3 linked regions of the Homo sapiens genome follow. The protein of the gene in region 3 interacts with the protein of the main gene of each other region in a biochemical or structural test. Each region holds a gene or a part of one and is shown on either strand. Other genes may lie near its edges.

Region 1 (8,726 bases), on a different chromosome or scaffold from region 3:
TTCCGATGCCTTCTTAGAGAGCATGGTTTGAGAGATGAAGTCTGTTCCTTCCATGCAGGCCCAGGAAGCAGAGACCCACCATCTCAGGCCCCTGTGCCCCATGGAGCGGTCCCAGGACCCCAGACCCCCTCACCTTGTCCGTCTTGTCTTCAGAGAAGGGATTCTGGGAAGGATCCTGGTCGATTCCACCTCCAATGCTGAAACCCAGGATTAAGTTCTCACCTTGACGCAGCTTGTGAATTTCAACTCTTTGCTGGCAAAGAAAAAAGCCAGTTGAGAGAAGTGGGTGGTTGGAGAATTAGGCTGGTGGGTGTTCCCAGCAGCAGCCTCAGAGCCATGACAAGGGGCTGGGTCCCAGGCCCCTGCAGGAATCCAGCTGCTCACCAGCCTGGGAGGCTGAGGAGCTGGCACTCAGAACTTGGCCACATTGATCCACCCACACAGCCCTGTGTCCTCAACCTGTCCCCACTTCCCCTGTTAGTCTTAGGCACTAGTCTTGGTCAACATGTGGTGGAAGCCCCTGCTGGCCCAAGAGTCCAGGTGCTGTGGCTTCTGTAGGTGGGAAGCCCGTCTCACAGGAGGTGCTCTGGAAAAGCAGAGATCAAACTTGCATAGAAAGGAGAGGAAGGGGTTTCCTTTCGGCCGGAACCGCCATCTTCCAGTAATTCGCCAAAATGACGAACACAAAGGGAAAGAGGAGAGGCACCGGATATATGTTCTCTAGGCCTTTTAGAAAACATGGAGATGTTCCTTTGGCCACATATATGCGAATCTATAAGAAAGGTGATACTGTAGACATCAAGGGAATGGGTACTGTTCAAAAAGGAATGCCCCACAAGGGTTACCATGGCAAAACTGGAAGAGTCTACAATGTTCCCCAGCATGCTGTTGGCATTGTTGTAAACAAACAAGTTAAGGGCAAGATTCTTGCCAAGAGAATTAATGTGCGTATTGAGCACATAAAGCACTCTAAGAGCCGAGATAGCTTCCTGGAACGCGTGAAGGAAAATGATCAGAAAAAGAAAGAAGCCAAAGAGAAAGGTACCTGGGTTCAACTAAAGCACCAGCCTGCTCCACCCAGGGAAGCACACTTTGTGAGAACCAACGGGAAGGCGCCTGAGCTGCTGGAACCTATTCCCTATGAATTCATGGCATAATAGGTGTTAAACAAAAAAAAATAAAGGATCTCTGGGCTCCAAAAAAAAAAAAAAAAAAAAAAAGAAAGGAGAGGAAGGGCTTGCCGGCCACGGGGACCAGCGCACAGGGTGCCGTGGATACGTGTTCGTGAGACTGGAGTGTCCAGTGCAGGACACAGAACTGGGAGGCGAGATGAGGCTGAAAGTGTAAGGCTGGGGCCAGATCCCGTCCTGGAAGGGGAGCAGGGGTGTCTCCCTAAGCCCCAGACCCTGCTCTTGTGCAGAAACGAGTGTTCTGGGGCATTCCCACCATGCTCTGGGGTGTTCCCACCATGCTCTGGGGCTATGGTCCCCAACTGTGCCAGGTTCTTTTCAAAGCCCTTGGCAAGCGCCGTCCAGTCAGCAGATGCTGGGAGCCAGACCAGATCACTCCCAAAGTCAAGTTTTAACAGGAAGGAGAAAAGAAAAAAGCAGAAGACCACAATCTAGACTAGACCTAAAGAAGTTTCCCAAAGGGAGGATTATTTGCACCAGGCTTTGAGGGGGTGATGGGTAGCCTGACCTTGATCCTGAACCCACTGGAGTTCTCAGGAACGGAGTAGGGTAGGGCATGGTCAGGTTTGCTGCTAGAATGACCACTCAGGTAATCAGTAGAGGAACGGACATCTCACAAAAGCAAGGTGCAGAGGCCGGGGGACATGGAGCTACCTGAAAATGGAGATCTACAGACTTAGGGACCACTCATGGAGGAGAGGAGTCAAGAGGAGCACCCAGCCACCGTGCCTGGCTGAACACACATTATTCAGATGGGGACCCAGGAGGAGGAGGAGCAGGTTAGGTTGGAGTGCCAGGAGCTGCGGGGCAGGTGTCCAGAAGGCAGATGGATCTATGGAGCCAGGGTTCAGAAGAATGGCCTAAATGTCTTTAATATTCTCAGGATTCTACATGGGAGAGGGTGGGGACTGGGGAGTGAGCCTGCCCAAACCCATCCCCAATCCAAGACTCGAGGGAGAGGCCAGACCATACACACCATGTCCAGGCACGTTCCTGGTGTTACCAGAATTAGGGGGCATGGGCCTGCAGTTTTGGGGAAGGCCCTGGGACCAGTTATGGCGTGAGGGAGGGGGGCAGGAAGCATGAGGCCTACTGTGCCTGGGTCCTCATGCCCCAAACTGAGCTCCTCCAGGCCTGCTCTGCCGGCACGGTCAGAAGATTACAGGCCCTTGGGTTGGGAGACAGGGCTGTCACTGATTTGCTGGGTGAGGTCACGCAGAAGGTGGCTTGCTGTAGCTCCTCACCTGTCCCTGCCCCCCTTCTACCTAAAGAGCAAACCTGGTGCCTTCTCTCTGGGGCAGGTAGGGATCTAAAAAAGCCAGGCTGGGCCGGGTGTGGTGCCTCACGCCTGTAATCCCAGCACTTTGGGAGGCTGAGGCAGGTGGATCACCAGAGGTCAGGAGTTCAAGACAAGCCTGGCCAACATGGTGAAACCCCGTTCTACTAAAAATACAAAAATTAGCTGGGCATGCTGGTGCATGCCTGTAATCCCAGCTACTCGGGAGGCTGAGGCAGGAGAATCGCTTGAACCCAGGAGGCGGAGGTTGCAATGAACCGAGATCGCGCCACTGTACTCCAGCCTGGGCGACAGAGCAAGACTGTCTCAAAAAAAAAAAAAAAAAAAAAGTCAAGCTGGTGCAGGGAGGGTGAAGCTTAGGACAGCTGTCAGCTGGTCCAGCAATGTTTCCTCCTGGCCCAGGCCTGAGCCAGTGCTCTAAGCTCAGCCTCACTTGTCGCCTTTATCAGTGGCTTCTCTGCCTCCACCCACCTGATTGCTGGAGCTTCTCCAGCACACCCAACTGAGATAACACACCCAGTCCCTATGGCTCCAGGGCGGGGACTTTCGCTTGACCTACTGCCCACCGGGCAGGCATTTCTTCTCATTCTCTGAACGCTGTCGGGAGGTAGGCAGGAGACCTGAGTCTTTCCTGAGGTGGTCTTTTCTGGCTGAGCACTTCTCTCTGGGACTCCCCACCTCTGTCATAGGGTTGTGTCCCTCTGTGACACCGGCGTCTGAGTCTAACGTCCCAGCCTTCCTTCCTCCCTCTGCCTAGTCTAATAGCACCCAGCACCTAAAACAAGCCAGAGGGCGGCCAGGGGCCTAGGCTAGCCCCCGGAGGGTCTACTCAGGACTCAAGTGCCAGGAGGGAGGCCTGGACTTTTTTGCCTTAAGGGCTGGAGACCCAGGAAAAGTTCGAAGAGGAAACGCTCATCGCAGCTATACGAGCGTCCACCCTGGACCAGGCGGCGAGTGGGTTGGAGGAGCAAGGCTGGACAGGAAGGGGGCAGGGGCTGCCACGGCAGGCTCGGGAGAGCCCCACCCCCAGATCTCCCTCCGGGCGGCGGCGCAGGCTGCAGCGGAGGAAGCATTTCCTCATTCCAGAGGCTGCGACTCATGGACGTCGGGATCGGCGCCCGCCCCCAGCAGCTCCCCGTCTGGGGACACGGAGGCCCGGGAAGGGGGCGCTTTTCCAGGCTCCTGCAGCCAGGCCTTTCCCCGTGGCCCTCCCCGCCCTGCGCACGCAGTCTGGGCTCTGTCCAGGGTCTCGGGAGGCTCTCGGGTCCCGGCCATCCCTGTTTCGTGGCTGGGGGAACTGCGGCCCGCTCCGGCAAAGCGGGGACCCGAGCCCTTGCCGCCGGTTCGCAGGAGCCCCGGGTTCGATGCTCTGTCAACCTGCTTGGGGTGTCCGTTTCCCGCTCTGCGAGGTGGGGTCAGGCCAAGACGAGGAGGAGCCCGCGCAAGCGCACTCACCACCACGGCGGTGACCGGCTGGCCCGGGATGTAGGACATCTCGACCCTGCTCTGGTCGCCCAGCGCCGCTCCGAGAAGCCGGCAGCAGAGTACCCGCGGTCGCGCCCTCGCTGCTTAACAAAGGCCGCCCCGCTCGGCCCGCCCCCTCATGAATAGTTAACAAACCTCCAGCCAATCACTGGCCGGAGCGCCACTCCGCTTTCGGAAGTCCCTGCGCGTGCGCAGAAAAGCGGGCAGAGGGCGGAGCGTGTCCGGGGCGCCCACGGCGCAGGCGCGGAGGGCGGGGCGGGATCTGGGCGCGTGCGCAGCCCGAGACCTCCCGGCAGTCTTCCGAGCAAGATGGCGCCGCGGGCATTTCTTCCACTGCCCGTCTGAGGGAACGCTAAGTAGTGTGTCCGGCGCCGTGTTCCAGGTAACTGGGCCACCGTGGCCGGGGAACGCAGACGCGCCACCACCTCCCGGCCGGCCCGGACCCTCAATCTCCTCGGCGTCTTTGGAAGATCCGAGGCCCAGGACTGGTGCCAGGTCTCGGAAGCTCCAGGGGGAGGGGGCGGCGTGAACCCAACTCACCGAGCTCCGGGCGCCACTTGTAACTTGGTTTTCTCCGCAGCTCCGCGTTGTTCCGCGAGAAAGCGAGAGGCCGAGCCCGGGCTGGTGCGATGGCCGCGGTGGTGGCCAAGCGGGAAGGGCCGCCGTTCATCAGCGAGGCGGCCGTGCGGGGCAACGCCGCCGTCCTGGATTATTGCCGGACCTCGGTGTCAGCGCTGTCGGGGGCCACGGCCGGCATCCTCGGCCTCACCGGCCTCTACGGCTTCATCTTCTACCTGCTCGCCTCCGTCCTGCTCTCCCTGCTCCTCATTCTCAAGGCGGGAAGGAGGTGGAACAAATATTTCAAATCACGGAGACCTCTCTTTACAGGAGGCCTCATCGGGGGCCTCTTCACCTACGTCCTGTTCTGGACGTTCCTCTACGGCATGGTGCACGTCTACTGAAATGGGGGCCCGGGGGACTTTTTTAAAAAACCAGATCGGGAGGACTGTGGCCAGCAATTAACACCATGTAGACTTCCTTAGTTCTTAAGTGGTTGAATTCGCTGCTTGTTCTGTAACGTTATAAATAATTTATATCTGAAGACGGAGAGCCTGTAATATTCTTCAGATTAAATGAAGCGTGAGACACTTTGTGGAGTTCTTTCCTGCTGTAACGCTTAGGCTGCCACTGATGCAAAATCGCCGAGATTTGACTCCTGGAGAGCAAGGAATGGGCCATAGCCTTGTGTTAAGTCCTTGTATTTACACATAGGCCATTCAGAAACGGGCCCTAAGGGCCTACATAAGGAAAGAACTTATTAACATCCTAAGAAGCAGTAACAGTTAATATGTATTAAGAGCTCCCTGGGCCGGGCACGGTGGCTCATGTCTGTAATCCCAGCACTTTGGGAGGCCGAGGTGGGCGGATCACCTGAGGTCAGGAGTTCAAGACCAACCTGGCCAACATGGCAAAACTCCGTCTCTACTAAAAATATAAATATTAGCCGGGTGTGGTGGCGCGCGCCTGCAATGCCAGGTACTCGGGAGGCTGAGGAAAGAGAATCGCTTGAACCCTGGAGGCAGAGGTTGCAGCGAGCCGAGATCGTGCCACTGCATTCCAGCCTGGGTGATGGAGCAAGACTCCGTCTGTCTCTCAGGGAAAAAAAAAAAAAAAAGAGTTCCCTATATGCTGGCATTGTGACTTCTACTCTACACCGATCCTCTCATTTAATTTTAGCAATAACCTTACAGGGTAGATGTTATTGTTAGCTCCCTCGTAAGGAACCTGAGGCTCAGAGAGGTTAAATACTTCTCCCAGAGGAGATACAGCTAGGAAGAGACAGAGCCAGGATTCAAATGCAGGTCTCTTAATTTGCTCTTGATATGTTTGCTGGGTGTACCTTTCACAGGCCAGCGTTCCCTCCCACTAACCACTACTTTCAGGTATATATGGTGTCATTTTAGTTCCATTTCATTTAGTGACAGTCCTTTCCATAAGAAAAAATAAAGTCAAGCTGTATTTTTTAGAATATGTCTAGGGAAGATTAAACATTGTTTGGACATTTAGGCTGGGCACAGTGGCTCACGCCTGTAATCCTAGCACTTTGGGAGTCCGACGGCAGGCAGATCACCTGAGGTCAGGAGTTTGAGACAAGCCTGGCCAACATGGCGAAACCCCATCTCTACTAAAAATAAGATGCAAAAATTAGCCAGGCGTGGTGGTGGGCACCTGTAATCCCAGCTACTTGGGTGGCTGAGGTAGGAGAATCGCTTGAACCCTGGAGGTGGAGGTTGCAGTGAGCCAAGATCATACCACTGCACTCCAGCCTGGGTGACAGCAAGATTCCATCTCAAAAAAAACACAAAAATTGTTTGGACATTGAAGTTGAACTTTGGGCAGGTTTAGGGTGTAAACACCTCCATGTGTTAATCCATGATCCTTTCTTGTCAGGAGGGTTATTTTAGAATAAAACGCATTTGTGGCCGAGCACGGTGGCTCATGCCTGTAATCCCAGCACTTTGGGAGGCCGAGGTGGGCAGATCACCTGAGGTCAGGAGTTCGAGACCAGCCTGACCAACATGGAGAAACCCCATCTCTACTAAAAATACAAAATTAGCCGGGTGTGGTGGCACAGGCCTGTAATCCCAGCTACTAGGAAGGCTGAGGCAGGAGAATCTCTTGAACCTGGGAGGCAGAGGTTGCGGTGAGCCGAGATCATGCCATTGCACTCCGGCCTGGGCAACAAGAGCGAAACTCCCTCTCAAAAAAAAAAGAATAAAATGCATTTGTTTAATTGAGGAATAAATATTGCATTAGAATGACGGTAATTGCCTGAGTGTAGTGGCTCCTGCTGTGATCTCAGCACTTTGGGAGGCCAAGGCTTGAGCCCAGGAGATCAAGACCAGCCTGGGCAACATAGTGAGATGCCCATCTCTACAAAAAAACATTTAATTAGCCAGATGTGGTGGCATGTGCCTGTAGTCCCAGCTACTCAGGAGGCTGAGGTGGGAGGATCAGGATCACCTGGGCCCGGGAGGTTGAGGCCACAGTAAGCCACGATTTTGCCACTACACTCCAACCTAGGCAACAGCGAGACCCTGTCTAAAAAAAAAAGAAATTACAGTAATGAAAATGATGGTGCTCATTGGATTTATGGTTAACTGGGGAAACCAGCATCACCTAACTTCAGAAATACTTAAATCATGGTGAGTACTATGAAGAGGACATAGCAGACCTAGCCCAAGTTGGGGTATATGGAGGTCAAGGAAGTCTTCTCTGAGGAAATAACATTACATCTGAAACCCAAAAGTTGAATAACATAGGCAAGTGTGGGGAAGGAGTTACCTTCAGGAAAGCGCATGTTTCCAGGCCATTGGGCAGGAAGGAATGTGACTGTATTTAGAGAGTGAGAGAAGAGGCCACAGGGTAGACCCAGACCAGATCATGGAGGGCAGTAATGGGTGTGGGGACATGCGCCTGTAGTCCAGCTACTCAGGAGGCTGGAATGGGAAGATCAAGATCACTTGAGCCCAGGAGGTTGAGGCTGCAGTGAGCTCCCATTTGCCCTGGCCTTGATCCTCAGAGCAAATGGGGGAAGCCTTTGGAAGTTTTTAGTCTGAAGTGACGTAATCACATTTGGATTTTTTTTAAAAAAAGAATCTGTTTTAGATTGGAAGGGGATCTGAGAGCTTGAATCCAAGTCCCCTTTTGACAGATCATAGATAGCCCATGGCCAGTCATGGAAATGGATCTGGGACCCAGACCTGTTAAATTCCGTTTCGGCTTCAGGAACACATGCACACGACGCCAAGGAGAAGCTGAGGCCATAGCGTTGCCCCCCATCTCAGTGAGCCCTTTCTCTGCCCCCACTGAAGATCCTCAGTGGTTTGCCCACCTCAGTCCTCTCAGAACCTCCTCTGAGTGGGAAGGAAAGGTTCATTCCTGGTGTAAGGGAGAAGCAGAGGGAGTCCTCAGCCTGGTGGGAGAGGAGAAAAAAGGAAGAGGGATAAGCGAGCTGATGTACTTAACCATTTCCCTATTGTTGGGCAGTAAGTTTGAAATGTTCACTACTATAAAAAATACTGCAATGAATGTCTGCGTTTATATTGTTTTGAGAAAATTAATAAGTTCCTACAGCAGAGGATAAAAATTTGGTTCCAAGTTACTTCCAGAGTTGTGTTAGATTACACTACTTGAATGAAAAGTACCAGTTTTATCAGTTCCTTCCTAGTCTATAATTTTAATAGTTGCTCATTTAAAGCATTTCCATAATTTGAATTTCTTTGCAAGATGAGGAATATATTGCTTACTAATTGTTTCTTGTGTCTGCCTCTTTTGATCTTGCCTTCTTACATTTTCCTTTAAAATACGGGTAAAAATGGGCCAGGTGCGGTGGCTGTTGCCTGTAATCCCAGTACTTTGGGAGGCTGAGGTGGGCGGATCACAAGGTCAGGAGTTCAAGACCAGCCTGACCAACATGGTGAAACCCCGTCTCTACTAAAAATACAAAAAAAATTAGCCGTGCATGGTGGTGCACGCCTGTAATCCCCGCTACTCAGGAGGCTGAGGCAGAAGAATCACTTGAGCCTGGGAGGCAGAAGCTGCAATGAGCCGAGGTCGTGCCACTGCACTCCAGCCTGGGCTACAGAGCGAGACTCCATCTCAAAAAAAAAGATGGGTAAACATGAAGAGAAAAAAATCAGGACACGTTTGAAATTGACACCATTTATTGTTTTATGACCAAATAAGAGTGT
Region 2 (9,574 bases), on a different chromosome or scaffold from region 3:
GTGAATGTGAGAGCTTAGGCCACTAACCTCAAAGCTGTCCCTCAAGGGAAAAATGTATGCCGGGACAACAGAAAGTGCTTCTAAGACCTCTGGTAACAAAGAAGGTGGTCTGCAAAAATCAAAGAACTATTGAAACCAGGGGGTACAATGTGAAGGAATTGTTTCACTTTGTACATTAGTATCATAAGCTTCCTGAAGGGGACAGTCTGATTCCATAAATGCCAAGTGGAACACCCCAGATCCAGATAGAGCCACTGATATACTTCATATGCAAGCCATGTGAAACTGGCTTTATGATGACTAGGACATTTACCCTCTGAATATGCCCACTACCCAGTCATGGTAAATGCTGTGGTTAAGGGTGACCCCTTAATGTGGATAACCTTACTGTTGCAAAATCAAAAGACAGTTCGAGAAGCCTTATCAAATGTGCTGTCTCAGTTTCCTCTCGTGGGTCTTACAGATGCTAATAAAACCATTAGGTTAAGAGAATGGTGAGACAGAGGGCAAATGGATTCAACCCGGAAGGTGGAAATTTTTAAATGGTTATTAAGAAGTAAGGTAGGCCGGGCGCGGTGGCTCACGCCTGTAATCCCAGCACTTTGGGAGGCCGAGGCGGGCGGATCACGAGGTCAGGAGATCGAGACCATCCTGGCTAACAAGGTGAAACCCCATCTCTACTGAAAATACAGAAAATTAGCCGGGCTTGGTAGCGGGCGCCTGTAGTCCCAGCTACTTGGGAGGCTGAGGCAGGAGAATGGCGTGAACCTGGGAGGCGGAGCTTGCAGTGAGCCGAGATCGCGCCACCGCACTCCAGCCTGGGTGACAGAGCAAGACTCCGTCTCAAAAAAAAAAAAAAAAAAAAAAAAAGAAGTAAGGTAGCAGGGTGTGGTGGCTCATGCCTATAATCCCAGCACTTTGGGAGGCCAAGACAGGATGATCACTTGAGCCCAGGAGTTCAAGACTAGCCTGGGAGCCAAAGGGAGACCCTGCTGGTCTCCCACCATTAAGGGGTTCCAAACAAGTTTGCTATATTTACCCCAGTTTGGAGAAATTGTAAGTCAGGAGGCAGATTACAATGAGAAATCTGATCTGAAATTGTGGAAACAATAGGTAGATGAGTCAAGATAAAGACTGGCAAATGGGCAAGGGTCTCTTGGCTCAACCACCTGCTGGGGACCCCAAGCCTTCTGTATATAAGTAGGTAAAATGGTCAGGGAGTGGCAAAAAGAAATTCCTGGGACTCCTTCATATGGAAGCCCCAGGTACAGTAGTACCAAGAGCCATTGGTGAAGCCCCGAACAGGGCTACAGTTAGATTAAGAGAAGGCCAGGCGTAGTGGTTCACGCCTGTAATCCCAGCATTTTGGGAGGCCGAGACAAAAGGATCCCTTGAGCCCAGGAGTTCGAGACCAGCCTGGGCAACAAGGCAAAACCCCATCGCTACAAAAACTAAAAAAATTTGCCAGGCATGGTGATGCACGTCTGTAGTCCCAGCTACCGGAAGGCTGAGATGGGAGGATCACCTGAGCCCTGGAGGTGGAGGCTGCAGTGACCCATAATAGCAGCACTGCACTCCAGCCAGGGCGAAAGAGTGAGATCTGATTGAAAAAAAAAAAAAAAAAAAATTGAGAGAACACAAAGATGTAAGTGTTGACAGAACTATGAAAGTTGGAAGCTGTGTCTCCTATATGTAAATGTGTTTTATTAGGAATGGATATTATGTCTGGCTGGGGAACACTTCCCCTACCTAGTATTGCAAAAACAAAACCTGTTGATAAAGTCCTAATAGAAGCTACAGTTAGAAAAGTGAGGGTTAGCCAGGTGTGGTGGCTCACACCTGTAATCCCAACACTTTGGGAAGCTGAGGCGGGTGGATCATTTGAGGTCAGGAGTTCGAGACCAGCCTGGCCAACATAGTGAAACCCTGTCTCTACTAAAAATACAAAAAATTAGCTGGGCATTGTGGTGCACACAAGAAGTCCCAGCTACTTGGGAGGCTGAGGTGGCAGAATCGCTTGAACCCAGGAGGCAGAGGTTGCAGTCAGCTGAGATCGCACCACTGCACTCTAGCCTGGGCGAAAGAGCAAGACTCTGTCTTAAAAAAAAAAAAAAAGGAAAAGAAAGTGAGTGTTGATGGAATTAAGATAAAAGTTTACAGGAGAGTTGGTATATTCAAACACACTTCATATGAGAGCATAAGAGCTCCACACCCTTCTCCCATACCTACAAGCCCTACGCCTCTCTTCATCTGTATGCTTTGTAGCATCCTTTACAATAAACCGTGAAGGTAAAAAACAAACAAACAAACAAACAAAAAACACCAAAAAAACAGGTGCTGCTAAAACTGAACTGTCAGTAGTAGAAGACTGCGATGGAATTACCACACCCACTGTTCATAATTCAAACATAATTCAAAACTGATCAAGACTTTAAAGTAATGGAGAATAAAGTAAAAGGCATGTTAATTGTTACGGAATACCTTTGCTTGCCATTGCCTCAGTGAACAGCCTTTTAAAAAATTTTTTTTCTTTTTTTTGAGACAGAGGGTCGCTCTGTCACCCAGGCTAGAGTGCAATGGCGGGATCTTGGCTCACTGCAACCTCTGTCTCCCGGGTTCAAATGATTCTCTTGCCTCGGCCTCCCGAGTAGCTAGGATTACAGGCGCCCGCCATCACGCCCAGCCATTTTTTGTATTTTTAGTAGAGAGAGAGAGAGAGAGACGGGGTTTCACCATGTTGGCCCGACTGGTCTCAAACTCCTGACCTCGTGATCCGCCCGCCTCGGCCTCCCAAAGTGTTGGGATTACAGGCGTCAGCCACCGCGCCCAGCCTAAAATCTTATTTAAAAATTTTTTTACATGAGTTTACCAACTAGATTTAACTTATGGTTGCAAAATAAATTGATTTCACCTTTATCTATATCATTAAATTTGGTAAAAGCATTACAGTTTGTCCAGTCACTTCAGAGAAGTCAAAGTCTTCTACAATTTCTTAAAGTTTCAAAAGATTCTTAGCTTAATTTATTGGCTCTTTAGGTCAAAAGAAGGACTTTTCAGGGTGATGAAAATGGAGGAAGGAGGAGCTCACCTTTCTAAAAATGAGTTTTCAATTACTATAATTATGCATAAGACAGGCAGCATTTCTGGGCCAAGATTTGATGCCTTGGTCCCATGAGAATTAAATTAGAGCCACGCATAAATTTGGGGCAAGTTCTGCAAAAACCACTTCAACCTCTATTGATGCTGAATAAAAAACTCATTGTTAAGATTCATCAACACGAATATATTTTCTAACACACACTAGCCACTCTGGCAACAACCCTTTCATCATTTTCTATCCAAGAAACACAACGGAATGCATTTCAATCCTGCTCAACAATTACCACGATTACAAGTAGAGGGGAGAGCTCAAAAGTAAGAATCTAGTTCACCGAGCCCGACCTTAAAGTAGCAAGGCCCAACCCACACTGCTGGCTATTGTATTGGTTCCCCAACACCTCCAGGGCTGGAAGGACACCAGAACGCTCCCGACACGTTGAGAGAGAGAAAGCCAGTCGTTAAGGGCGGGGTGGTGGATGATCGGAATCGTTCACATCGCAGCAAGCCAGCAGGGACACAGGTGTGCGGCCAGGCCCCGGTGCCGCTGTCCTTGCTCCAGGGCGACAAGGCCCTTCGCAACCACCACAGCCCTCGTAGGCGCTTACTTATTCATTCACTTGACAATTACGCGAGAGGCACTCTAGCAGGGCCGGCTCTCGGGGCCCCCGCCCTAGTCTTGGTAAATCGCTGCCGCCAGGCGCGGCCCTGCACCGCCCGCGCCCCGCGGACGCTGCCACCCGCGCCACGCTGCGGCGCGCTCTGGCCACCTGGAGCCCAACCCCGGCCTCCGCCGCACACGAGCGCCCACGCCCCCGGCCCTGCCCGCCGCAGGTCCCCCGGCCTCCGGCTCGCTTCGCCGCCTCAGACCTGCCGGGTTCGTGGGGCAAGTGGGGCGCGCGTCTGGAGACCTCCAGCCGCCCAGGATTCAGGGGCTCCTCTGCGCGCGCGATGCCTGCACTCGAGGGCCTCGCGGGTGGGGCAGGCCCACCGACCACTCACCTCAGCTGGGTCAGAACCAAGCGGCCTGCTCTAAGCCGTTTGAAACCGCTTGGGCCGCCGCACACCCCGCAGTGTCCTCGTTCTTTATTGGTCCTCGACGGACCGCCCATCGGACTTTTATTGGTCCATTTGAAAGGCCTGTGGGCACGCGCCGCCCGCAGCCTTAAAGGGGCCGCGCGCAGCCGTGTTTCCCTCTGGACCAGACGCCGCCTGCACGGGTGGGGACGCTGGTCGCTGCCGGGGGCAAGTCTGCCGACTCCAGAAAGAAAGGCGAAAGAATGTGTGTAGACCCGGGCATCCTTGGTCGTCAGCATGTTTGCTTTATTTAATTACAGATGTTCAGGCTGCTGTCAACACCCGACAATTTTTTTTGGTCATTTCATTCCCTAGAGATTGTGAAGCTAAGTGCTGTGAGGGAAACCAGAGGCAGCTGAGATGTCGTGGAAGTAACAGCGAATGAAGCCAGGATGCTGGATTCTGACCTTGGAACTGTTCTGAGTAAATCACTTTTCTCAGTAAATCTTCTGGAGTTGTTTCCTTATCTGTAAAATGGGATAACGATGTTTCCCTTACAATTTAATGGAGGAGTTAATATAACTAATAGAATGTCTGAGAAAAGCCTTTGTGAACTGTAACGCATCCTGCAAATGCTTAATATTCCCTTATAAAAACGAGAGGCTTGGTTAACATGATCTCCAGAATTTTAGCTTAGCTCTACATTCAGTGTTTCTGTGAATGAGTTCAGGTCCTTACTTCCAAGGAATTTGTAATCTACAGTGGTTGGAGGAATATAACATACAGACTAGTCACTAAAATTCAAAGCAGTGTAATAACTGTATAAATGAAAAGCTATAAATGCTTAGAGACAGGAGAAATTTGATGGGGGAGGATCTGTGAGGAAGATGAATTTTTAACCTAGGATTTAAAGAATGTGTAGATTCCCAACAGGCTAAAAGATGGAGAGAGGATGGATAAAAGTAAATGAAACAATTACATGTTTTTTCATTGTCAAGTTGGCAGAGATGAAAAAGTTCAACAGCCTTTGGTTGGTCAAGATTTGGAAAAACAGGCTGGGTGCAATGGCTTATGCCTGTAATCCTAGCGCTTTGGGAGGCCGAGGCAGGAGGATTGCTTGAGGCCAGGAGTTCAAGACCAACCTGGGTCTTGCTATCAAGACCCCATCTCTGTTTTTAAAAATATAAAGAGATTTGGAAAAATGGACACTCAAAGTCAATATTGGTAAGAGTATAATTGGTACAAACCTTTAGGAGGACAATTTGACAGTTACTAAAATGTACATAATCTAGTTCTGGCCCAGTAATCCACTATGAGGAATTTATCGTACAGATCTGTGCAAGTATGCAAAGAAAAATGTACAAGGATGTTTACTGCAATACTGCTTTTTTTTTTTTTTTTTTTGAGACAGTCTCGCTCTGTCGCCCAGGCTGGAGTGCAGTGGCGCAATCTCAGCTCACTGCAACCTCCGCCTCCCGTGTTCAAGCGATTCTCCTGCCTCAGCCTCCTGAGTAGCTGGGACTACAGGCACGTGCCATCACACCTGGCTAATTTTTTGTAGTTTTAGTAGAGACGGAGTTGCACTGTGTTAGCCAGGCTGGTCTTGATCTGCTGACCTCGTGATCCTCCCGCCTGGGCCTCCCAAAGTGCTGGGATTACAGGCGTGAGCCACTGCACCCGGCTTTTTTTTTTTTTTTTTCTGACAGAGTCTCTCTCATGTCACCCGGGCTGTAGTGCAATGGCGTGATCTTGGCTCACTGCAACCTCCATCTCCCGGGTTCAAGCAATTCTCCTGCCTCAGGCTCCCAAGTAGCTGGGATTACAGGCACCTGCCACCACGCCCGGCTAATTATTTTTTATTGTATTTTTAACAGAGATGGGGTTTCACCATGTTGGTCAAGCTGGTTTCAAACTCCTGACTTCAGGTCATCCACCTGCCTCAGCCTCCCAAAGTGCCGAGATTACAGGCGTGAGCCACTGTGCCCGGCCCTTTTTTTTTTTTCTTTTTTTTTCTTTTGAGATGAAGTCTCGCTCTCTCGCCCAGGCTGGAGTGCGATGGCACCATCTCAGCTCACTGCAACCTCCACCTCCCAGGATCAAGCGATTCTCCTATCTCAGCCTCCCAAGTGGCTGGGATTACAGGCATGTGCCACCAAGCCCAGCTAATTTTTTGTATTTTTGGTAGAGACGGGGTTTCACCTGTTGGCCAGGCTGGTCTTGAACTCCTGACCTCAAGTGATCCACCCGCCTCGGCCTCCCAAACTGTTGGGATTATAGCTGTGAGCCACTGTGCCCAGCCAGCACTGCTTAAGATAAAAATAAAATAAAATAAAAAAATAAATCTGGAGGCCAGGCATGGTGGCTCATGCCTGTAATCCCAGTGCTTTGGGAGGCTGAGGTGGAGGATTGCTGGAGTGTGGGAGGTCAAGGCTGCAGTGAGCTATGATCACGCCACTGTACTCCAGCCTGCGTGACAGAGTGAGACGCTGTCTCTAAAAAAAATAAAAAATCTGGAAATTACATGTTCATCAACAGGGAACCTTTTACATAAATTATGACATATCCATTCAATAGAACACTATGAAACTGTTAAAAAGAATGCGGTTAATCTATGTGCTGGAACAGAAACATGCACAAATTTTATTAATTGAAAAAAAGGCAAGTTGCAGAACTTGTGGAATGATTTTATTATATATGGTTATAAACGTATGTGTGTTTGAGGGCATGCCTGAAAATGGTTAGAACATTCCTGGAATTATAAGAAACTTAATAGGAGTGGGACTTGGGAGGGAAATGAATTTTTACTGTTAACGTGGTGTGTTTCTTTTTTCTTTCATAGAAGGAGCAGAGAGTAGTGGGGAAAGTGTGAGTCAGGGCGCAGAAACAGCAAAGTGCATCGTATGTATGGGACTGAACATGTGGGGTTGATTTTAGGACTGAAATTTTGTTGGGAAGTAGTGGAACACAAGATTGACACAGAAGGTTAAGAACAATTCTTTTTCTTTTTTTTTTGAGACGGAGTCTCACCTGTCGCCCAGGCTGGAGTGCAGTGGCGTGATCTCAGCTCACTGCCACCTCCACCTCCTGGGTTCAAGCAATTCTCCTGCCTCAGCCTCCCAAGTAGTTGGGACTACAGGCACAAGCCGCCATACCTGGCTGATTTTTTTGTATTTTAGCAGAGATGGGGTTTCACCTTGTTGCCCAGGCTGGTCGCAAACTCCTGAGCTCAGGCCATCCGCCCGCCTCAGCCTCCCAAAATGCTGGGATTACACATGTGAGCCACTGTGCCCGGCCAGGAATGATTCCTAAAGGATCTTGAATCCCAGGGTATGGAATTGGTACTTTATTAAGTAGATAATGGGGGGGCTATTAAAGGTACCTGAGCAAGAGGGTGGCAAAATCAGAGTTGTACTTTAGGAAAATTAATTAGCTTGATTGTCTAAAATGGTTTAGAGTTGGGAACCCAGCTAGGAGTATGATATGAGGTGTTAGCAGTGGAGAGGATGAGAGCAGATTCAAGAAAGAATGAAAGATTTGGCAACTGACTAGATTAGGTGCAAAGGCAAGGGTGGGTCCCATTTAGGGAGGTGAGTCAAAGAGAATTCCAGGATTTGATTGCCCAATGGAAGTAGGAAGTCAGGAGAAGCCAGTCTCAAGGGGAAGGTGAGGCATTTAAATTGCAACCTGTTCACTTTTAGGTACCAATAAGGCATTCTAATGGAATCATCTGAGTAGGCCTAGAAAATACACGATGGAAGCTGGAAGAATAGATGCAGAATCAATGATATAGATTTGGGAATCACATTGATAGAGTGAATGAGACTGCAGATTGGGGGATTGGAGAGAGTGAAAGGATGGCCAATGAAGACAGATCCACATGTAGGAGAAGAAGAAAGGAATGAAAGCAATATGGTCATGGTAACCTTGGATAAATTGGTGAGGATATACAGAAATAGTTTTCTTCAGTCATTGGTCATTGGCATATTTACTTTATTTAAATATTACCAGAAATAAACTGAAGATTACATTTAAGGAGAGGGTGTGATGGTAATCAGGAATTGGCTTAACAAAGGATGTTTGTGCAGTCCGGGTCCTGGAGAGTTTTAGAACAAGATGACAAAATCCCTTTTTGTCTTGGATGACTTAGGTGCAGCCCTACTTTAAGGTGAGTATTAGATGTCTGATGCTACTCATTTATTCATTCAACAAATATTTATCAGCACCTATTATGTGGAGGGACTCTTCTAGGCACTGCAATGATCAGTAGATAAAATAGACTCCCCAAAATTTCCTCCCTTTGTGGTGCTCACACTATAGTGAGGAAACGTAGACAATCAACACATAAATAAATTATATAGTATGTTATTAGACAATATGTCCAGTGGGAAAAGAAAAAGAATAAAACTAGGTAAAGGGATAGGGAAGTGGGGTTGGAAAGACCGTAATTTTATTTTATTTTTCAACTTCTATTTTAGAATCGAGGATACATGTGCAGATTTGTGATAAAGGTATATTGTGTGATGCTGAGGTTTGGGGTATGATTGAACCTAGGTAGTGAGCATAGTACCTAACAGTAAGTAGTTTATCAGTCCCTGCTTGCCGGGGTCTGTCCCACAGACCTTGACCCAACAACGGTTGAATAACGTACACTAACACAGATATTCTGCCTGTCACTCCAGCTAAGGGTCTGGGCCCCTCACAGACACCAAGGAAGGTGCTGTAAAGAGTAGCAGCCGGCCCCATCAGCCAGCGAAGCTTGCATTTATTCAGTATAGATTAAATGACAAAGGTTTTGAGTAAACACTGCTAGAGGGTAATTGACCTGGTTGCCAACAACCCCGCCCCCACCCCCTGCGGTTGTGCACCCGGTTGATCAAAGATTGGTCTTAAGACCACATGAGTAAACAAGCTATTCAGATAAACTACTCTACATTCCTTTGTATCTACTTTAAGCTATTTACTCAAAGTAAGGATTAGGCGGCTTTCAGCCATAACCCTATCCTGAGACTTTTGCAAAACCTTCCGGCCTTCCAAGAAGATTTGTGTCTATATTTTATAACTTCATCTTAAAATTTTCCCACCAGCCTGACTGAACTCCCACACTTGCTCATCTCCCACTCTCCCATCTCTAGTAGTCCCAAGTGTCTATCGTTCCCTTCTTTATGTCCTTGTGTACCCAATGTTTAGCCCCTGTTTCTAAGTGAGAACGTGCAACCTTTGGTTATCTGTTTCAGCATTAGTTTGTTTCGGATAATGGCCTCCAGCTGCATCCAGGCTGCTGCTAAGGACATTATTTCATTCTTTTTTTATGGCTGCATAGTTTTACATGATATATGTACCACATTTCTTTAATCCACCATTGATGGGCACAAGGGTTGATTCCATGTTTTTGCTATTGTGAATAGTGCTGCAATGAATATATGGGTACATGTGTCCTTTTGGTAGAATGATTTTTTATCCT
Region 3 (4,555 bases):
ACACACGCACACACAGAGACAGGCATGCTAGCACACATGCACACACCACCTGCCAACACACATGCCCTGCCCTGGCTGCCAGTTTGCTCCCACAGGAGCTCCAGGAAAAGCCCAGGGAGTAACCAGTTCACAGGCAGGACAGCGGAGGCTGGAGATGCCACGCTGGGCGTGGAGGAGCTGGCCCCATCTCAGGGGATTCTGCTCCCAGGTGCCTCCTCTTTCCCAGAGCCCTGGCTGTGCCCCGCCCTGCGAGGCGGCCGCTGACCAAAGCCCTGCCCAGGACAGTCCTGCGTGGGCTCCGAGCCTGGACTGGGCCATTGCTGCTGCCCAAGGCCATGGAGGTGACCGGGAGAGGAGCTGGCCCTCCTCGCACTGCACGGCCCTCCAGACCTCGCCTCCTCCCCTAAGCCCTGGTCCAGCAGGCGGGGGCTGGGAGCAGCGTGTTCTTTCAGCCCACCCCACCTCTCATGCACCAGGTCCTGCAGCTGCCCCAAGCCTGGGAGGGGTGGAGGGCAGTCTCCTATCACCATTTCTGGTTGGCATATGGGGTAGATGCACCCCTGACTTTCCTGCAGAAGCCAGGGCCCCAGACCCAGGAGGATCAGGGCAGATTCTCAGGTGTATGCTGGGTGCTCCCTCCCTGAGGACAGCATTACCCAAGCCCACAAAGGCAACGGGCATTGGCGTCGGACACAGGAGGGCTGGTGGGGGCTTCCTGGGACAGAGAGGACCAGTCCTCCTCTTGCTGTGCCACCCCAGGTCAGCCGACTGGCTCAGGGACTGCCTCTTCTGCCTGCAGCTCCCAGGACGAGATGGCTGGGAGGAAAAACTGGGAGGGAGGTGGGGCCTGTCTCCAACCCTGGGGACACTGCAGAGGGATCCCCAAAAGCTCTACTGAATCCCGGAGTCCTCTAAACCACTGGCCAGCCTGGGCCCTGCAAGGCGCAGCTGTGCCGCCCCTGGCTTCTCAGTACACGATCAGGGGCCGCTGGCCCTGCTCCAGTGCTCCAGCCGGTGGGCAGACTGGCCACACCAGGGGCGAGCTTGGGGCGACCACACATGACACGGCACCCAACACAAGGGGGCCATGCACAGGGGGCCTGGTGCCGGCCCGCGGCATCCTGAGTATGTCCCTGGAAAATGTGTGGCCACGGTCTTTGCCTGGGCTCAGAGTCACTGTGAAAATCCAGGTTCTTAAGAAATAACTTTAATGTATTTAGAAACCTCAAAACCGAAATCTCCCTGCCGGGTCCCCTCCCTCCGGCCGGCCCCTTCTCAGAACGTGGGGCACTCCTGGGCACTCAGGGCCCTTCTTGTCCCACTCAGGGGTAGGAAGGGCATAGGAGGAGACCTCGCATTGCCCCCAATAATCGCTATTGGTGCCTCCTGTGCCCATCAGTCCAGGTGGAGTTGCCCCCTGGGTGCAGTGGGGAGGTGGGGCCCAGCAGCTGAGGGGCCCAGCCAGCCAACGGGAATAGGCTGGGCTCCCTGGGACACGGTGTGGCCCCCTCGAGCTTGCCTGGGGGTGCCTCTCTGGGGACATGTGATCTTCCTTCCGTGAAGTGTCTGGAGCCCGGCACCACAGCCACAGGCTCTTGGGAAGCCCCAGGGAACCATGCTGGGTCCTTGAGACCAGCTCCCCACGCTCTCTAGAGCCAGGCACGACCACTTGCTGATTGGAGACAGGCTGTGCTGCCGCCGGCTGGCCTCGCCAGGGCTACACGTCCGTCTCCACCCGCAGACGCTCCATCCTGCGGACATTGCCCTCCACGGCCACACGGCTGGTGATGAAGCGGGCAAAGTCCTCGGGGAACCATCCCGTCTCTCCGTCCCGGAGCCTCTCGCCATAGAGCCACCCTGAACCCGGATAGGGGTGGGAGGGAGGTGAGGGGAAGGCCGTGGGTCCCCCGGCCCCTCTGAGCTGCTATGCCTGAGCACACCAGGGCCAGGCTTCTCCTAGAACTGACCACCTGCTCCTGCTCAGAGCAGACAGCTGCTGAGGCCTTGCTCATGGTCACCGGGCACCCAGCCCCTGCTCAGGTGCTCGCCACTGAGAAGGGTGCTGGGCTGAGCACACCCCACACAGCGCTGCCCGGCATGAGGAGGAGCCCTGCCTGCCCTCTGCAGGCTCGTGCTGGGCCTGGCTGAGCGGGGATCCCCTGGGAGGGCAGAGACACCTCCTCCTCCCCACGTGGGACACAGTGACCATGAACCTGCTTTTGATTCTGAGGTTTGGGGATGTGGGAGTGCTCCCTTTGAGGAAGCCCTCGAGAGAGGGTGAGCACATGGTCAGCCTGCAGCCCGGCATGCTCTGGACCTGGCCAGGCTGGACGCTGACTCACGCCCGCCTGTCCGTTCCCACCCATCTGTGCCCAACGCCCCTGCACTCACCATCCTCCTGCTGCAGAACCAGGACCACGTCCGCCTGCTGCAGTGTGACCTCGTCTGCTTGCTTCGCGAAGAAGGCCTTGGTGATCTCCACCTGGGGCAGGTCTGCATAGGGCAGTGGCCATCACAGGGCTGTCGGGAGGCATGGGCCAGGCTCCACTCCCCAACGGCCTCCAGCAGACACATCCCCCGGGGCCGGGGCACCCCATCCCCCGACTGCCAGGCCCCAGCACAAGGCCAGGTGCCAGGCTCACTTGGGCTACAGTGGGGGCCAAAGTGCCAGCCACGGCAGAGGGCCAGCCCTGCAGGCCCCAGCCCGCACTCACCTCCTTTGCTGGAGAGGCCCTGCCACTGTCTCTCACTGTGTGTGAGCGCCACGATCCACCGTGCCCGGTCACTCCTGGGGACCAGAGACAGCATGAGCCAGGCCTGGAGACCGATCCTGCCCGTCTGATGTTCCTTGACTTCTGACAGCCACCCATGGGGGCCGTGGCAAGGAGATGGGGGTGGTGGGGGTGGGCAGGAGTGGCTGGGCAGACTGTGCCAGGCAGGCTAACCCCCAAGTCACCCCAGCCCCAGGTCACAGAGTTGGGTAGTGGCCACACACCCAGACCCCAGCCTGCTGGACCTGAGGCCACCCCGTTTCCTGGCACTGGGCCCCAGCTCCCTGCCCCCTCCGTTTGCTGTGACAGACTCAGCCTCAGCATCCTCATCTGGAAACGGCCCAGAGCTGTCCTCAGTCAAGACGAGCTGAGAGGGAATATGGAGACTGGCGCACCTGTGTGCCTGGCTTCCACGGGGGGCCCGCAGAGACTCCATCAGTGCCCCCTCCCATTCTGAGTGCCAGGACCACCCTGCTGTCTGAACTGGCCCCTACCGGCCAGGGTCGCTGCACCCCAGCATCACTGCTGTCCACCTGCAGCTGTGCCCTCGGGGCCTCAGGGCTCTCCTGCCTCGGGGCCTCTGCTGAGCAACCCCACACTCCGGCCCCACCTCCCTCTGCTCACATGGGCTAAGCTTTCCTCACGGCACCCCCCGCACCCCACCCCCCACCTCGTTTCCTCCCTTGTTCCCACTCCTGGTGGCCCAACTGTTGGTGCGTCCCCTCCCGGGAACATAAACTCCATGAGGACAAGGCCATTTCTGTTGTTTCTGGCTCTACCTCAGCACCTACAGCAGGGCCAGGTGCACGGTGGGCGTTCAGAGCCAGCCATGCAACAGCGAGCAAGGCAGGGGGACAACCCGGTCCCCATGGAGCTAATGTGCCTGTGGCCTGGGAACAGCCCTCCCGGGAGCCCACTTACGCGGAGTCCGAGGAGAGCAGGAGCTGCTCCTGGCGGCCCTCGCTGTTGCGAAGCAGGGTCACCTGGAAGGGGTGGGGCACGGAGGAGCTACGGTTGCCGCCCCCGGGCAGAGGGAGCTCAGACGGCTCTATCTTCTCCACCTGGATGTGGTTCATCTGGGCGTAGTCCTGGACCATGTAGCTCTCCTCGCTGTGGAGACACGGGCAGTCGGTGGGACGGTCCCACCCAGCTCCTACCCAGTGCTGCTGGGCTCCCGTCCAGGTCCCACCCGGCTCCCCTGCAGTGGTGGGGAGGCAGCCACGGACGGGCTCCAAGAGTTCCCGCGTCCCACAGAACAGAGGCCATGGCTTTCGAGTCCTCCTCGTGGCTATCACCGGCAGACCCAGGTCTGCAGAGGAGGTCAGAGGCTGCACAGCGAGCGCCACCTGCCCCCGAGTGTCACGTAGAGCATGTGCCGAGTGGAAGCCGCGCCTCGGCTCTGAGGTCAGAGGGGCTCAGGGCCAACTCCCTGTACCCTCCTGCCCCAGGGCCAGCGGTCCAGTGTCCATGGAGTGGGGCTCCCCACACCCTCCTGCCCTAAGGCCACCTCTTCTTCTTGGTCACAACCAGGACATCGTTGAACAGGAAAAGGTAGCACGTTGGCCGGCTGGCAATTTTTCGAAAAAGTCCGGTTTCTTCCACTAAGAACAGCTCTCCGCGCTTCAGCAGCCACCGGGAGGCAGAGATCAGTGGGAGGGACTGGGGGGACAGAGCCGGGAGGCGGAGATCAGTGCGAGGGACTGGGGGGGACAGAGCCGGGGTGAGCAGGTCCCCAGGGGGTCAAGGACGCATAGCACCAGGTGGGACTGACTCCTGCCTCTGGA

Evidence for each region.
Region 1: the proteins of ARHGEF16 (region 3) and TAX1BP3 form a complex in vitro, tested with the Homo sapiens proteins (2 studies listed by BioGRID and IntAct, with this or other methods).
Region 2: the proteins of ARHGEF16 (region 3) and CKAP5 form a complex in vitro, tested with the Homo sapiens proteins (one study listed by BioGRID).

What each region holds. Positions count from the first base shown.
Region 1 is NC_000017.11:3,664,546-3,673,271, forward strand, and holds the start of TAX1BP3 (tax1-binding protein 3), read right to left. Parts: upstream 4,034-8,726; 5' UTR 3,982-4,033; coding exon 3,943-3,981; intron 254-3,942; coding exon 134-253; intron 1-133. Other genes in the region: EMC6 (ER membrane protein complex subunit 6), read left to right, coding at 4,602-4,934. UniProt on the Homo sapiens protein: May regulate a number of protein-protein interactions by competing for PDZ domain binding sites. Binds CTNNB1 and may thereby act as an inhibitor of the Wnt signaling pathway. Competes with LIN7A for KCNJ4 binding, and thereby promotes KCNJ4 internalization.
Region 2 is NC_000011.10:46,842,122-46,851,695, forward strand, and holds the start of CKAP5 (cytoskeleton-associated protein 5), read right to left. Parts: upstream 4,160-9,574; 5' UTR 4,099-4,159; intron 1-4,098. UniProt on the Homo sapiens protein: Binds to the plus end of microtubules and regulates microtubule dynamics and microtubule organization. Acts as a processive microtubule polymerase. Promotes cytoplasmic microtubule nucleation and elongation. Plays a major role in organizing spindle poles.
Region 3 is NC_000001.11:3,477,750-3,482,304, reverse strand, and holds the end of ARHGEF16 (rho guanine nucleotide exchange factor 16), read right to left. Parts: intron 4,431-4,555; coding exon 4,279-4,430; intron 3,882-4,278; coding exon 3,693-3,881; intron 2,789-3,692; coding exon 2,715-2,788; intron 2,494-2,714; coding exon 2,392-2,493; intron 1,858-2,391; coding exon 1,718-1,857; 3' UTR 1,192-1,717; downstream 1-1,191. UniProt on the Homo sapiens protein: Guanyl-nucleotide exchange factor of the RHOG GTPase stimulating the exchange of RHOG-associated GDP for GTP. May play a role in chemotactic cell migration by mediating the activation of RAC1 by EPHA2.